Linked DNA regions of Homo sapiens: region 1 is linked to region 2. The links come from fine-mapping of genetic effects on gene expression. Tissue or cell type: esophagus muscle. Region 2 holds a variant in brackets; the other region holds the start of a gene. All regions are shown on one strand. Distances are from middle to middle.

Region 1 (8,172 bases), 40 kb after region 2:
GGCAGTCGGGTGCCCAGAGGCAGCAGTAATAGAAGCTGAGGACATCGTAGAGCCAGTGGGACATGCTGGGCACTCGGGGTGGCGTGCGGAACGGGGGTGCGCCCCAGTCATGGCCGCGGTCGGGAGTGCTGCCGCCGCTGGAGTCAGCTGTCAGGAGCTGCGTCCCGTCCGCTGTGTAGCAGCACTGCTGACCTGAGCCGTACCGGAGGCTGCAGGAGCCAGTGAGTCAGGGCCAGGCCACTGTTGGGAGCCCACCCCTGACCCCAATCCCCATACCGGCCCCAGCCTGGGGGCTCACCTGGCCTGCACAGAACGCACACAGTGCACGGCCCCGGGGTGGTAGGTGCACACGCTGCCCTGCTCCATGTCACAGCCGTAGTCCGTCTGCAGAGCAGCAGGTGGCTGTCACCCAGTGGCCTCGGGTTCTGTCATCCCCTCCCTGAGGCCAACCCTGCAGGGGTCCTGAGACCCCAGCCCCACCCTCCAGGACACCTCTGTCTGCCTCCCCTGGTGCTGTCCTCAGTGGGGAGGCTAACCCCTCATCCCCTCTCCTGGGCCCTGATGGGAGGCTCACGAAGAAGCGGCCGGAGTCAGCCCGGGCCTGGGTCAGGGTGCAGGGGCAGTCCGGCAGCTCCTCCAGGAAGTTGGGCAGCTGATCCTCCAGCTCCTCCCAGGCCTGGCACTGAGTTCGTGCCCAGGCCACAGGGTCCTCTCGGAAGTCATCGCTCAGGTGCCAGGCCAGTGCGTGGTCGTTGGTCCAGAGCGCCTGCACGTCCCTGTGGAGGTGATGATGCTGGAGCTGGGCCAGCCCACACCACCCCATGGTCGCCCCACTCTCCCCACCCCCAGCCTGGGCTGCCCAGGCAAGCATGATGGGCCTCGGGCGGCGAGGCCCTCCAGCCATCACCTGCACATCCATGCCTTCTTACTTCTGCCCTGCGTAATTTTTGCTGTCGATGATCCGAAGTGCACCCACTCGCCATCTCTGGTAGCTGGGAGGAGCAGGTTTTGGGGTGAAAGTGAAAGAGCCGGAGTTGGGGATGTGTGTGGCCAGGGGGTACAGGTACGACCACTTTGCAGTCCACTCCTGTGAGTAGGGCATTCCTGAGGGAGAGGATGCCTGGTTAGCCCTGGGGTTCCTTCGAGGCCTGGCCCCAGGCCTTGCCACCTACAGCAGCCTGACAGATGGGTGGATGGACCGCCAGGCGGTCCCCTTAGGAGGGGCTGTTCTAGCAGGGACCCCGGCTTGGGTGACCATCACCTCCTGCCACACTCCAGGATCCCTGTCCCTGCTGGAAGCTGGGCCCAGGGCCATGCCAGCCGTGCAGGGGTTCCTCATGAGCCTCCTCCCCTGGAGCCAGGCCCCATGAGCTGCCCCCTCCCACCTGCCTGACCCCCCTGACCTGCACTTCCCTCCATCCGAATCCTCAATCTCTGCCTGGAATTCCCTTCCCTCCTCAACCCCACCTGGAAACTCCCTTCCTCCTCCCACACAGCTGGGACCCCCTTTCTCCCCCTCTGGGGGCCCAAAGCTCTGATGCCACCCCAGCCCTCAGCTGGCCTCACCTGTCTCCTCGTAGCCCCACAGTTCGATGGTGATGGTCTGCGTGGGCAGCGACTTGACATGCCAGGTCAGGCTGAGGTTGCCTGAGGTGTTGGCGGTGCCGTAGTATTGCCAACGCGTCTCGTTCACCAACTCGCTCTTCTCCATCATTGACACTTTGTTGGGGTGCACTGGGCAGGGGAGGTGAGGGGTGAGTGAGGGCCTGGGCCCAGGGAAGCAGGGAGGAGGCCCTGAGGCTTCAAGGGCTGTGGGAGCCTCCAGGGCCAATGCATGGCAGCAGCTGGGTGATGGTCTCTCTGGCCCGCACAGCAGAAAAGGACGCTGAGGCCGCAGAGGCAGGGGCCTGCCCTCCCTCCACTGCCCACGCCTCTAGCCTCGACCTGGCTTCTCCCCTGCCCTGGCATGGCGGAGCTCAGTGGATAGGCACTGGCCCACCTCTCTAGGGACCCCTGCAGCTCCCACTCACTCTGGGCTGGGACCGCGGTCTGGATGCCAGGGAGTGGAAAGGAGCTGAAGGAACTCTCGCAGGCGGGCAGGCCTCCCAAGGGACTGGTTCAGCCAGAGAGGCAGGGCACGGACAGGCCAAGTCTCGGTGTGCATAGATTAGCGCTGGGGAAAGTCCCCGTGGGGGCAGGCTGTGGGCAGGGAGGAGGGCTCACCAGCCAGCCAGGTGCCCGCACGAGGGAAGGAGTGGCCGTTGTCCAGTGACACAGTGAAGGGGATGCGGCCGCTCTCATAGAGCAGAGGTGACACACAGTGCACTTGCCCGGAGGAGTCCACATGGCCGAGGGTCTGGATGCTGTCCTTAAACCTGTGGGCGTGGTGGTGGTGGGAGGGGCTGGGTCATTGCAGGCTGAGCCTCTCGATGGTCTGGGCCCCCAACCTCCCTGGGGAACCCAACCAGCCAGCTGTCCCTGTGCCCTCCTGCCTGTCCTGGGTCCGAGGGGCTCCACTCAGCCAGTCAGTGGGTCTGAGCCCTCAGCATGCACAGGGATGGGGGCGTGGGGCCCCAGTGCCCGGCCTCCTGGGCCTCCCAACCTGCAGATCACACTGGCGTCTGTGGGGCTGGACATCTTGAAGTGCCGCACCACAAAGTCCTTGCCGCCCATCATGGATCCTGAGTAGGGCAATATCTCCAGGCAGAAGTCCCGGAAATCCAAGCAGCAGGTGCCAAGGCCAGAGCACGTCGGGTGGCAGGAACATGGCCCGTCCAGGGCGCCACAGCGCATGGAGCAGCTCTCTTGGGCATCTGGAGGAGAGGATGCTGAGGGCCTGGCCCGGCGGGTACTGGACTGGCTGCCCCATGTGCAGGGCCTGTCTCTGTTTCTCCCACAGCCCATTAGACAGCAGCATCCCCAGGAGAACGCTGGCCAGGAACTGCACAGGCCACCAGGTGGACACAGTAGAAAGCCACAGGGCCCGTGGGGATGGGATGAATCTTAGCACAGACCATCTGGCTGTTGCCCTGACTGACGGGCTAGAATGCAGCGAGAAGAGGCAAAAAGCTGCATCCGCTCAGCCCTGCAGGGTCAGGAGAAGCCCCTGGGCATGACTGCCCTTCAGCCACCAAGTCCTCTATCCCACAGGCAGGGGTCCTCAGTGGGCCACGGTAGCTGGAGCCCTCGACCTCTCTTGGCTCCCCAGGGTGTCTGTGGTCAGCACGCCTTCTGGGGGCCCTGAAGCCTGCAGAAGAACCCCTCTTGCTTGCCTGGACTGGGGTGGGGGATATGGCTGCCAAGAGTCTCATTTGAGGCCTGGTAGGGAATGGTGCAGGGTCTGAACGTGACACTTCTCGCTCTCCCAGGGGCTGCAATTGAGACCCCAAAGAGAGCTCCGTGCTCAGGGCAGAAGGCCAGGGCCGCTCCCCTCCTTTCTGGGGAGAGGAGGGACATTTCAAGCAGGGGTCCCAGCAGTGGGGAAAGGGAAGTGGGGGTGCACACCACAAGGGGCTGTGGGCGCCGGGCCCAAAACTTCTCCTATGGGCCATAAGACCGGTGGGCAAGGCCATATTTCCAGGGGCTGGCATGAAGGAAGGGTTGCAGGGAGGGACTGGGGCAGGTGCATGCACCCAGGCTGGAATTGCACTTCCCTGGCCCTTCCCCATCCCCCATCAAAAGAGGCCAGTCGAGGGCCAGGCCTGGGCCTGAGCCACCCCGCTGGCCCCACTTCACCAAGTGCAGTGCCTGGCACTTAAAAGCAACAATAAATATGTACTGGCCAAGGATTTGGTGGCGCACAGGGGTCGGGGGAGGAGGCCGAGAGATGCTTGCAAGTGAGATAAGTGGCAAGAGGGTCGATGGGAAATGGGGTGGGGGACGGGGGGCAGCCTGGGACCAGTGTCCTGGTTCTGGAGTTCGGGGCTTTCCCTAGACTTTCCTGGATTCAGCCCCACCCTGATGAGGACCCACAATCCTGGCTCCCCCTCCGTGATCCCGCCCTGTCAGGGCTGGGGACACAGGCGGAGGCCTCTGCTGGTCTCCCCCGCCTCCCTCCTAGCTACCAGCAGGTTTAGGGTGGGCCCGGCTCAGACCTCCCATCCCCATGGGCTGCCCCTCCACATGGACCCTCAGAATTTCTTCCCATCACCCCTAGCACAGCCACAGATGGCCTGACAGATGGACAGAGGCTGAGCCCAGAGGGATGTCAGCCCAGGCCTGGCTGCAGACAGATGGACAGACAGACGGGGACACAGAAGGGCAGGGAGGCATACCTGCTGTGGGTCCGGGGCCCGGGCCGAGGGCTGTCGCCAGCAGCAGCAGGGCCCAGGGCAGGAGGGCTGGCTTCATGGTGCAGCCTGTGTCTGCAGCCAGCAGTGCAGTGGCTCCGAGGCGAGGCGGCCAGACAAGCTCACTCCCTGCTGGCCTGGCCCCGCCCGCCCTGCACTCTGCGGCACCGCCCCGCCCCGCCCCTCCCCGCCCCTCCCCACCCAGTCCCCTCTCAAAGTCCACAGGTGCCTGCGTGGACCAGCAAGGCCCAAGTTGCCCCGTTAGCACATTCCTGGCCCGCAGGCCTGGATCGGCCCTGGGACCCTGTGGGAGGGTGAGGAGGCCGGAGCCTCCAGCCACAGGACCTTTGGCAGGCGATGAGCCGGATGTCCAGAGGGCGAAGCTCAGACCCTGGGTCCCAGCCCCGCCTTGCATGCAGGGCGAGCCCGGCGGGGCTGAAGCAGAGGATGGGATGCGCAGGGTGAATAAGGCAGGGCTGTTTTAGCTCCAGGGAGGATTCCAGACTCTGTGGCCCTGACATAGACCTCCATCTCTAGCCCTCATCTTCCTGCAGGAAGGAGGTGCACCCAACTCATCCTCAGGGGGAGGCAGGAGCTGTTTGGGTCAGACACAGGCTGAGCCCTGGGGCGGAGGCAGCTCTGCAGGGGTCCCCTCTGGAGGGAGGAAGGAGGAAGGGGAGAGAAGGTACCCAAGCCCAGCGGGGGGCCCGGAAGGGAGACAGGGCCCATCCCCGGGCTCCAGAGATGCCACCACCCTGGGGAGCCTTGGCTGTCCCAGCCACACCTAATCCTGCCGCTAAGAGTTTGCATAATTTAATCAGTATTCACCTCCCTTCTTGAGCAGATGAGGAAACTGAAGCTCAGATGCGGATAGGCAAGGCCGAGCCAGGCCCTTGGTGGCTTCTGGGAGCCCCTGCAGCCAGGGCGGGTGGTAAGGGCTGCGGCCTGGGACTGGTCATTTGGACCCTGACACCTGGGCTGGACATCCAGACAGGCGGGTGGTCCTCTCCCAGCTGCAGCTTCTCAAGGTGTCCAAAAGGGACCCTTGCCACACTTGCAGGGAGTCAGAGGTGGCCCCAGGGCATGAGCTTAGGCCATCCGGTCTGTGATCTGCCCCAGCGCTTGCGGCCAGGCCAGCCCATTGTTCCCCGGCCTGTTCTCTCTCTTGCCTGGGTGGTGCCTGCTGGGAACCACAGGGTGTTGGCAGCCACCCGTGGCTCCAGAGAGGTGGCCCCTACTGAAAGTGTTAGAGGCGTGTGCTGGGGGACTTGGCTCCTGAGTCCCCACACAGAGCTGTTCCAGGGAAGCCACACCCGCATTTGATGTTTTCCCACCTCCCAAAGACATTTGGTGAGAGGCCCCCAAGACCTTCAGCTTCTCAGGGACTGTCTCCAGAGGGGAGAAAGTCCCTTAACCCACAATGGCGCTCAGGGCACCTCTGCAGGTGAGTGTCCTGTAAGTGGACGCTCAGGTGCTGAGCCAGGGAGAGCCTGTCTCCTGGCCCCAGGCTGGCGAGGGCATTCATCCCAGGCCCAGGGCTGAAGTTGCTCCCTACAGCACTGGGTGCAGGGGAGGGTCCGAGGTGTCCGTCCTCCTATAGGTGAGGCTCCAGGGAGGGGTGCTGGGGGATCGGCTGAGACAGTTCCCGGGAACTGGAGGAGGGAGAGCTGCTGCTTCCTGTTTTTGGCCTGGGCACCGTTGCTGCGCGTGTCTGGAGACAATGGAAGTGCGGTAGGGGCTAGGTGTGCAGTCTGGGAAGCTCCATACCCCAGGCCCTGCAGGGAGGGGGCGTCAGCTGAGTAACTGGGGCTGGCTTATCTCAGCCCCCCGAAAGGCGGGTTCAGCCAGACCCATCTGGGGCCACCAAGCCTCTGGTTCCAAAAGGGCGGTGCCCAGCCCTTTACGCCTTTCCTCCTGGGTGGTGGGCATGTCCAGCCCATGAGGGGCACAGGGCAGTGAGGAGGGTCCCCATCTCCATCCTGGACAGAGAGCCTGCTCCATGGGAGGTCCCAGGGCCAGGAGGGCCCCTGCGGTGCTGGGAGGGGAAGAGAGTTGTGAAGGGTGCCAGCTCTAGGGGCTTAATGCTCTGTGGGGCCTGCCTTAAAATCCTTAATCATTTTTGGTCAGACATGGTGGTGGCTCAGGCCTGTAATCCCAGCACTTTGGGAGGCCAAGGTGGGTGGATCACTTGAGGTCAGGAGTTTGAAACCAGCCTGGCCAACATGGTGAAACTCCGTCTATACTAAAAATACAAAAATTAGCTGGGCGTGTTGGCGTGTGCCTGTGATCTCAGCTACTCGGGAGGCTGAGGCAAGAGAATCGCTTGAATCCAGAAGGCGGGGGTTGCAGTGAGCTGAGATCGTGCCACTGCAGATCGTGCCACTGCATTCCAGCCTGGGAGACAGAGTGAGACTCCATATCAAAAAAAAAAAAAAAAAAAAAAAAAAATCCTTAATCCTTTTTGATCAAGGAGCTTCATATTTATGTCTTGCACTGAGCCCAGCTATTCTGTGACTGGCCCCATTAGGGCGACTGTGATGGGAGTTAAGTACCCTCCCTGCCGGCCCCATCCCCCCTTTCCCTCCCTGACAGCCCCCTCCTCCCAGCCTCTCAGCTGCCCCAGCCCTGCCTGCCCTCCCACCGTACAGCCTCCCACCCACTGGCACCCAGGTGCGTTCTGGGGATGCACCTAACTCCCCTTTGAAGCCTGGCTCCAGCTGCACTAGAGGCGTCTGCCTGGCCCAGCCCCGAGTCGGCTCTCTCCTTACCCCACTGGGCACCCCCAGCCGCTGCTTTGGTTGCCTGGCTGGTCCCTGAGATGCTGGAGAAGGAGGGGGGCTAGGCCCTGCCCTATGGACTATGGCAGTAAAGGCCCAGAATCCCTGGGGACAGCAACTCTCCGCCAGAGACTCTGCCAGATTGCCCCCTAGAGGTGAGCAAAGAGGCAAAGACAACTGTTCCATCTTTATTAGAAAAGCAACCAAAAAAAGGGTGAGGGGTGAGCCTGGCCCTAAAGGACCCCTCCACTGTGACACAGGCAGAGCCGGCTCATCCCGGCGTCGAGGGGTGGATATGGCCAGCTGGGTGTGGGCAGATTTACAAAGTCAACACTTCATAGAAAAGGATGCCGCCTGGCGTGCAGATGGCGACCAATCCACCTTCACATGGCTAAGGCGGGCCCCTCCTCCTCTGGGCTCCCATGTGGTGTGGACAGCCTGACCTGGGTACAGGGAGGATGCCATGAGGAGGTGGGCTGGGCAGGCCTGGGGGCTGTGTGGGGAGTGGCATCCATGTGGGCCTCTGGTCCTGCCCAGGGTCCTGCCCAGGGGGCATTCCAGGCCTGGCTGGTCCCCTGGGGCGTGGCGGTGGGGCTGCAGTGGCCCCTCAAATGTCCATGTAGTCGTCGTCCTCGTCTGTCTCGCTCTCCAGCGAGGACTCCTGGCTGGATGTCTCCAGGACCTCCAGGGCTGGCTGGCATAGGCTCTCCTTCCTCACGTTGGCAGCAGACTGGGCAGAAAGGATGGCTGACTGCGGAGAGGGCCGGGCGGGGCACTGGTCAAGGATGGCTGGGCTCTGCCCCAAGCCCCTCTGCCACCTTCACCCCTGCCCCAGGCCCCCCTCCCACCCTCACCCCTGCCCCAGGCCCCTATGCCATCCTCACCCACACCCCAGGCCCTCCTGCCACCCCCACCCCCATCCTAGGCCCCCTTTGTAACCTATGCCTCCCACCCACACATGGCTCCAGCCCAGCCCCTGAGGTCACCTTCAGCTTCTGCTTGGTCTCCTCCGAGATGCTGCCTTTGGGGGAGAGCAGGGTTGGGGTGGGTGGCGTGACGGTGATCTCAGGGGGGAACTTGGTGGCGGCGGAGGGGATGACCAGCTT
Region 2 (8,172 bases):
GAGGCCTGGGGCCACGGGACAGGCACGTCCCATGTGTCTGTGCTGGGGGAGGATGGCAGCGCCGTGGCTGCCACCAGCACCATCAACACACCGTGCGTAGGGCCTGGGGGAAGGCGGATGGCTTCACTCCTCCTCTCCTAGACCTGCACACCCCCAGCCCCATGTCCCCTCACTTGTCCCCACGGGGCAGCACCTTGCTTTTGCCCTTTTTCTCCTCCTCTATTTCAAAAGAGGCCCCCACCCCTGACATCTCTGGCTGGAAAGGCTGCTGCTGGGGTGGCCCCGACCCAAGATTTACCTGGGAATGGGTAGCCTCACTCAGAAGGGTGCCCTGATGTGGGGGCACAGGTGGGTCTTTGGGGACCCCTCCTGGGTGGTGCCAGGGAGAGAATAGCGGCTTCAGCATGCTTCGGGGCAGCTGTAAAACGAGGGGGTCCTGCAAAGCGTGCAGGGTAAGTGGTGTCTGGTGGGAGCCCCGGGTCCTAGCCCAGGCTCTTCTGCCTCCACGGCTGCAGCTTTGGAGCGATGGTGTATTCACCACGGACAGGCATCATCCTCAACAACGAGCTCCTGGACTTATGCGAGCGATGCCCCCGGGGTTCCGGCACCACCCCCTCACCTGGTGAGAACAAAGCTTCCCACCCGGGGTCCACAAGGGCCCCCCACCAGGGGAGAGGAGGGAGGGGGCTGGGCTGGGGTTGCATGCTAACCCCTGGATGGGTCACTGCACTTGCCAAGACGCTGTTTGCTCAGCAGTGAGTGGAGACAGGGTGGGTGGAGCTCCCGGAAGGTGCTGGCCCCCAGTTCCAGGCGAGCGTTCCCCATCCTCCATGGTGCCCTCCATCTTGATCAACAAAGCCCAGGGGTCGAAGCTAGTGATTGGCGGGGCTGGCGGGGAGCTCATCATCTCTGCTGTGGCCCAGGTGAGTCTGGGGCTCCTGGCTCGAGTGTCTCCTCTCTGGGCAGCATACTGTCTGACTGTCTCTGGAGTGGGGATGTGAGGGCTGATGTAGGGTAGCAGGGTGCCCCCTTTCTCCCTGAAACCCTCATCTCTCCCCCAGGCCATCATGAGCAAGCTGTGGCTTGGCTTTGACCTGAGAGCGGCCATTGCAGCCCCCATCCTGCATGTCAACAGCAAGGGCTGTGTGGAGTACGAGCCCAACTTCAGCCAGGTGAGGCTGAGGTCCGAGCTGGATGCCTAGGGCAGAGCCCACTCCCCAAATCCGTGCTGCTCAAAGCCACCTGGGAGGAACTCAGTCACTGAGATTCTTAGGCCAGGTACACTTCAACTTTGGGGGCCATAGGAGTTGGGGACCTTGATGGGTGAGGCTGTCAGTGGCCTCCAGGCCAGTTCTGTGGCCTCCAAGACAGAGAGCAGGGTATTGTCTATGCTGCTCCCAGGCTGAGGATCTCAGCACCTTGGTCTCTGGTCTGTGGTTGATGCCATTTTTCAGAAGTGAGTTTTCCTGGCTGGGGCCTCTCAGACTCTCCCTCATGGTGACTTTTTCCTTGTGTGATTTGTAACTAATATTTGCAACTTTATTTGTGAAAGAGGTTGTTTTTCCTGTGACAGTCTGTAAAGTGATTTTCTTCTGGGGCACTAGGGCATTGGTGGTAATTTTTACTATATATATAATTTTTTTTTTTTTTGAGACAGCATCTCACTCTGTTGCCCAGGCTGGAGTGCAGTGTTGCGATCACAGCTCACTACAGCCTTGACATCCTGGGCTCAAGTGATCCTTCCTCCTCAGGCTCCCAAGGAACTAGGACTACAGGTGTGTGCCACCACACCTGGATAGTTTTTATTTTTTTGTTTTTCGTAGAAACAGGGTCTCTCACCATGTTGCCTAGGCTGGTCTTGAACTCCTGAGCTCAAGCAATCTTCCCGCCTTGGCCTCCCAAAATGCTGGGATTATAGGCGTGAGCCACCATGCCCAGCCTACAAACATTTTTTTTGATTCCCCACAGAAGCCCATGGTGCAGCTCCAGGGGCTGAATTCTTCTGGCTGACTCCCCCTCTATCCTTAGACAGAGACTCAGCTTCCTTGGAGCATCTTTGGGTTGATGGATGCCCTTTGTTAGGACCTATTTAAAAGATTGATAGTGGCCGGGCATGGTGGCTCATGCCTGTAATCCCAGCACTTTGGGAGGCCGAGGCGGGTGGATCACCTGAGGTCAGGACTTCCAGGCCAGCCTGGCCAACATGGTAAAACCCTGCCTCAACTAAAAATACAAAAATTAGCCAGGCGTGGTGGCACACACCTGTAATCCCAGCTACTCGGGAGGCTGAAGCAGGAGAAACACTTGAACCCAGGAGGTAGAGGTTGCAGTGAGCCAAGATCGTGACATTGCACTCCAGCCTGGGTGACAAGAACAAAACTCCATCTCAAAAAAAAAAAAAAAAAAAAAAAAAGATTGATAGCAGCTGAGGTTCCAGATCGTCAAAGCTGCCTCTCCTGTTATGAGACTTCTTCGGTCTCAAGTCCACCTTCCAAAGCCCTTAGAACCTGAGAACCATGGCCTTAGTCCAGGAACAGAGTGTAGTCCCAAGAGCCTTAGTTTTCAGACCTTGAGACTAAGGACCTCAGCCTGTTAGGCTCAAACTCTTGGAGTTTGCAGGCCTCCCTCCGCATGTAGGGTCCTTCGCATGACAGGAAGACCCTCTCAGGGCTCTCGGGTTCCAGGGATCTTAGATATGGAGGATTTCAAGATCCAGGGCACATCCTTTGGAGCCCTCCTCCCTTGACTCTTTTTTTATTTTTATTTTTTTAGACAGTCTCACTCTGTCACTCAGGCTGGAGTGCAGTGGCATGATCTTGCCTCACCACAACCTCCGCTTCCCAGGTTCAAGCAATTCTCCTGCCTCAGCCTCTGAGTAGCTGGGACTACACATGTGCGCCACCACACCTGGCTAATTTTTGTATTTTTAGTAAAGATGGGGTTTCCCCATGTTGGCCAGGCTGGTCTTGAGCTCCCAATCTCAAGTGATCTGTCCACCTTGGCCTCCCAAAGTGCTGGGCTTATAGGCATGAGCCACTGTGCCTGGCCCTCCCTTGACTCTTTTTTTTTCTTTTTTTTGAGACGGAGTCTCGCTCTGTTGCCCAGGCTGGCGTGCAGTGGCACGATCTTGGCTCACTGCAAGCTCTGCCTCCCGAGTTCACGCCATTCCCCTGCCTCATCCTCCCGCCTCATCCTCCCAAGTAGCTGGGACTACAGGCACCCACCACCACGCTCGGCTAATTTTTTGTATTTTTAGTAGAGACAGGGTTTCACCGTGTTAGCCAGGATGGTCTCGATCTCCTGACCTTGTGATCCGCCCGCCTTGGCCTCCCAAAGTGCTGGGATTATAGGCGTGAGCCACCGCGCCCGGCCCCTCCCTTGACTCTTGACTGAAGGACCTTTGTCTTTGTGAACATCAATTCTCAGGACCTTTCACCCTGGGGACGTGAAATGCTGAGAATTTGGGAGATGACAGTCTGGGGACTGGGATTAATGGAATCCAGTGACCCACAAACCTAAGGTTCTCAGCTCCCTTGGGGAGTTGGAATGTCAGCTATTCAGGTCTAGGGCTTTCCATGGAGTAAATCCTAAACTCTGGGTTGGAGACTTTAAGCCTCCAAGGACCTTCACAGCTAAGGCCCAGGGACTAGGGCGAGGAGAGTCTTTGATCCTCAGAGTCTTGGAGTTTGGCCAGTGGACTCTGAGGAATGGAGTCTCTGAGCACTGAAGGTCCAACTTTGGCTTCAGCAGTAAAGGATCTTGGCCTTCAAGTCTAAGGACAGTGGGCAATTAGTAGGTCAGGCATGGGGAACTCATAGCCAAACGTGCAGGGCTCCAAAGACCTCATTTGCCCTGTCAGCAGCTCAGGCCATGTGGCATCACCCGATGCATCTAGATGTCTCCGGAATCTCAGGCCCTGCAGGGTGAGGTTCTCGGGCCATTAGTTTTTTTTGTTTTGTTTTGTTTTGTTTTTTTGGCTTGTTGTTGTTGAGACAAAGTTTCACTCTGTCACCCAGGCTGGAGTGCAGTGGCGCGATCTCAGCTTATTGCAACCTCCACCTCCTGGGTTCAAGCAATTCTCATGTCTCAGCCTCCCAAGTAGCTGGGATTACAAGTGTGTGCCACCAAGCCTGGCTAATTTTTGTATTTTTAGCAGAAACAGCGTTTCTCCATGTTGGCCAGGCTGGTCTCAAACTCCTGACCTCAGGTGATCTGCCCACCTTGGCCTCCCAAAGTGCTGGGATTACAGGCATGACCACCGCGCCTGGCTAGGGAGCAGTGTTTTTAAGGACAACTTGGCGGGTTGGGGGAAGCCAATGAGCCAGGAGTGCTGATAGGTCAGGGATGAAATCATAGGGAGTTGGCTGCGCGCGGTGGCTCCCGCCTACAATCCCAGCACTTTGGGAGGCTGAGGTGGGTGGTTCACCTGAGGTCAGGAGACCAGCCTGGCCAACATGGCGAAAACCTGTCTCTACTAAAATTACAAAAATTAGCTGGGCAAAGTGGCAGGCATCTGTAATCCCAGCTACTGGGGAGGCTGAGGCAAGAGAATCACTTGAACCTGGGAGGGGAAGTTGCAGTGAGCCAAGGTCGTGCCATTGCACGCCAGCATGGGTGACA[G/C]AGCGGGACTCCATCTCAGAAACAGACACACACAAAAAACCCCTGGAAATCATAGAATCATAGGGAGTTGAAGCTTTCTTCTTGAGCTGAGTCCGTTCCTGGGTGGGGGCCACAAGGTCAGATGAGCCAGTTAATCGATCTGGATGGTGCCAGCTGATCCATCAAGTGCAGGGTCTGCAAAATTTCTCAAGCACTGATCTTAAGAGCAGTTTAGGGAGGGTCAGAATCTTTAGCCTTCAGCTGCGTGACTCCTAAACCATAATTTCTAATCTTGTGGCTAATGTGAGTCCTACGAAGGCAGTCTGGTGCCCAGGCAAGAAGGAAGTCTGCTTTGGGAAAGGGCTGTTACCGTCTTTGTTTTAAACTATAAACTAAGTTTCTCTCAAAGTTAGTTCAGCCTACACCCAGGAATGAGCAAGGACAACTGGGAGGTTAGAAGCAAGATGGAGTCGATTAAGTTAGATCTCTTTCCCTGTCTCAGTCATAATTTTGCAAAGGCGGTTTCAGTCTTGCTGTTTTGCCCAGGCTGGAGTGCAGTGTCATGATCAAAGCTCACTGCAGCCTCAAACTCCTAGCCTCAAGGGATCCTCCTGCTTCAGCCTCCTGAGTAGCTGGGACTATAAGCACAGGGCCACCACATCCGACTAATTTTTTCTTTTTTCTTTTCTTTTATTTTTTAATAAAGACGTGATCTTGCTACATTGCCCAGGCTGGTCTTGAACTCCTGAGCTCAAAAGATCCTCCTGCGCCGGCCTCCCAAAGTGCTGGGATTACAGGTGTGAGCCACCACGCCCAGCCCAATTTTTGATTTTCTTTTAGAGACGGTGTCTTGCTTTGTTGCCCTGGCTGTTCTCAAACTCCTGGCCTCAAGTGATCCTGCCACCTTGGCTCCCAAGTGGCTAAGACTGTAGGTATGTGCCACCACGCCTGGCTTTTTTTTATTTCTTATTTTTTATTTTTTAGAAACAGGATCTTGCTGCATTGCCCAGGCTGGTCTCAAACTCCTGGCCTCAAGTGATCCTCCTTCCTCAGCCTCCCAAATTGCTGGCATTACAGGTGTGAACCACTGTGTCTGGCCTCAGTGTCTAAATCTTGAGAAGCCACATCCTCCATCGAAGGCCCCCTGAACTCAGATTTGCACCTCAAGGCCCTGGTGTCCTTGGATCCAGAACAGACATGAACTTGCATTTGGAGGTCTTCGGGCCTGGGTGGTGTCCTTCGTACATAGTCCCTGGAGGCTGAGCTTGTCCTCTATGGGCCTTTGGATCTCTTCCATGCTCCCATCTGGTCCTCCCCTCTTCCTGTGTCTTCAGGCCCTCTTCCTCTCCGTCTTGCCTTTTGATCATTTTTCTCATTTCTTGCAGAGGCCTCTCCCTCCTGGAGATGGGCTGAGCTGCCCTCCCCTGTGAACCTGCTTTCTCTCCTCTCCAGGAGGTGCAGAGGGGACTCCAAGACCGTGGCCAGAACCAGACCCAGAGGCCCTTCTTCCTGAACGTGGTCCAGGCTGTGTCCCAGGAGGGGGCCTGTGTGTACGCCGTCTCGGACCTGAGGAAGAGTGGGGAGGCCGCAGGCTACTAAGACACTGCTCTGCCCAGAGCTGAAGTCTGGCCCCACCATGAGTCCTGTGTCCAGGCCGGACATGGCTGGGGGACCAACTACTCTGGCAGGATCTGGACCCCTGGCAGGGGAGTCCAGCTGAGAGTGGAAGAGGTGGCGGGGACCAGCTGGGCAGATGAGAGGCTGAGCCTCATCCCTAACCCCCTTTCCCAGAGCCCCTGGTGGTCCTGAACCGGCCCCTCTATCCCTCCGCAGGCCTCTTGCCTGGGGCCACTCTCCCACCCTCTCGATCTGTATATCCTCCAGTCCAAGATTAAAGAGGCGGACTGTGGCCTGATTCCATGGTTCTAAGTGGGGAGGGGACCCTCGGACAGTGCACAGAGGGGTGCATGCACCAGGCTCCTATGGCTCTCCACATTCCACCACCATGGAGGTGGGGAAACTGATGCTCGTGGACCAGCCGAACCTCAGCCAGGCCACCCCTGGACAGAGACAAGCACCACCTCTGCCTCCCAACACCTCACCACTCTGGTGGCCAGGACTCAGCAGCGTGACTGGCCCCAGACCTGAGAGCTGGTTAACTGAAAAATCACACAATTCACAAATTTGGAAAAGAGACTTTTTTCTTTCTTCTTTCCTTTCATTTTTTCTTTCTTTCTTTTTTCTTTGAGATGGGGTCTTGCTCTGTCATTCAGGCTGGAGTGCAGTGGTGCAATCACGGCTCACTGCACCCTCAACCTCCTGGGCTCAAGCCATCCTCCTGCCTCAGCCTCCCAAGTAGCTGGGACTACGGGTGTGCAACACCACACCTGGCCAATTTTTAAAATTTTTTTTGTAGAGACAGGGTCTCGCTATGTTGCCCAGGCTGGTCTTGAACTCCTGGTCTCAAGCCATCCTCCCTCCTCGGCCTTCCAAAGTGCTGGGATTAAGGTGTGAGCCACTATGCCCGACAAGACTTTCTTTTTTTTTTTTCCTTCAACTTGTGTTTTGAGTTCAGGGGCCCATACGTAGGATGTGCAAGTTTGTTACATAGATAAACATGTGCCTTGGTGGTTTGTTGCAGAGATCAACCCATCACCTAGGTATTAAGCTCAGCATCCATTAGCTATTCTTCCTGAAGCTCTCCCCCATCCCCCAACTTACTTTCTTTTTTTTTTTTTTTCTGTGAAACAAAGTCTCACTCTGTTGCCCAAGCTGGAGTGCAGTGGCAAAATCTCAGCTCACTGCAACTTCTGCCTCCCAGCTTCAAGCGATTCTCCTGCCTCAGCCTCCTGAGTAGCTGGGATTACAGGTGCGTGCCACCACACTCGGCTCATTTTGTATTTTTTGTGGAGATGGGGTTTCACCATGTAGCCAGGTTCATCTTGAAATCCTGACTTCAAGTGATCCGCCTGCCTTGTCCTCCCAAAGTGCTGGGATTACAGGTGTGAGCCACAGCGGCAACTTTATTTTTCATAAAGGGTTACAGACTGCAGGGTGGCCATCCGCCACTTTCAAAAGCATAGCCTCTGGCAGAGACCAGAGACAGGCACTTCTTTTTTTTTTCGAGATGGAGTCTCGCTCTCTTGCCCAGGCTGGAGTGCAGTGGCACGATCTCGGCTCACTGCAAGCTCCACCTCCCAGGTTCACGCCATTCTCCTGCCTCAGCCTCCCGAGTAGCTGGGACTGCAGGCGCCCGCCACCACGCCCGGCTAATTTTTTTTGTATTTTTAGTAGAGACGGGGTTTCACTGTGTTAGGCAGGATGGTCTCGATCTCCTGATCTCGTGATCCGGAGATAGGCACTTCTAAGGAGGAGAGGTTGGGGCAGGAGCTGTATGCTGAAGGGGTTGGCTAAACATACATATTCAACATGTTACAGGGAGAGCTATGAATATTCATGAAGGCAGTCTTGACACATGTGTATTGAACGAACATGCATGTAACATAGGACTCATGTTTGCTGTAGGATGAAGACGGTGGAGACTTAACATTAAAATGTATTACAAGGTCAGGC

Evidence for each region. PIP is the estimated chance that this variant, and not a neighbour inherited with it, causes the effect.
Region 1: SUSD2 starts here. The variant in region 2 is fine-mapped to the expression of SUSD2 in esophagus muscle (GTEx, PIP 0.92).

Annotation. Positions count from the first base shown.
Region 1 is chr22:24,177,698-24,185,869 of GRCh38, reverse strand. It overlaps SUSD2 (sushi domain containing 2), which reads right to left and starts at 4,383. Exons shown (of 15, transcript NM_019601.4): 1 at 4,275-4,383; 2 at 2,603-2,813; 3 at 2,224-2,375; 4 at 1,567-1,734; 5 at 930-1,104; 6 at 575-776; 7 at 299-384; 8 at 1-209. The coding sequence starts at 4,350. CABIN1 (calcineurin binding protein 1) reads right to left here. Exons shown (of 37, transcript NM_012295.4): 36 at 8,053-8,172; 37 at 7,242-7,817. The coding sequence ends at 7,674. RefSeq lists enhancers at 2,154-2,263, 2,334-2,413.
Region 2 is chr22:24,217,996-24,226,167 of GRCh38, reverse strand. GGT5 (gamma-glutamyltransferase 5) reads left to right here. Exons shown (of 12, transcript NM_004121.5): 8 at 1-92; 9 at 516-622; 10 at 757-923; 11 at 1,062-1,172; 12 at 6,052-6,508. The coding sequence ends at 6,198. Among named protein-coding and RNA genes, the nearest start is that of GGT5, 23 kb to the left of the region's middle. The variant G/C (reference allele first, on the strand shown) is at 4,621.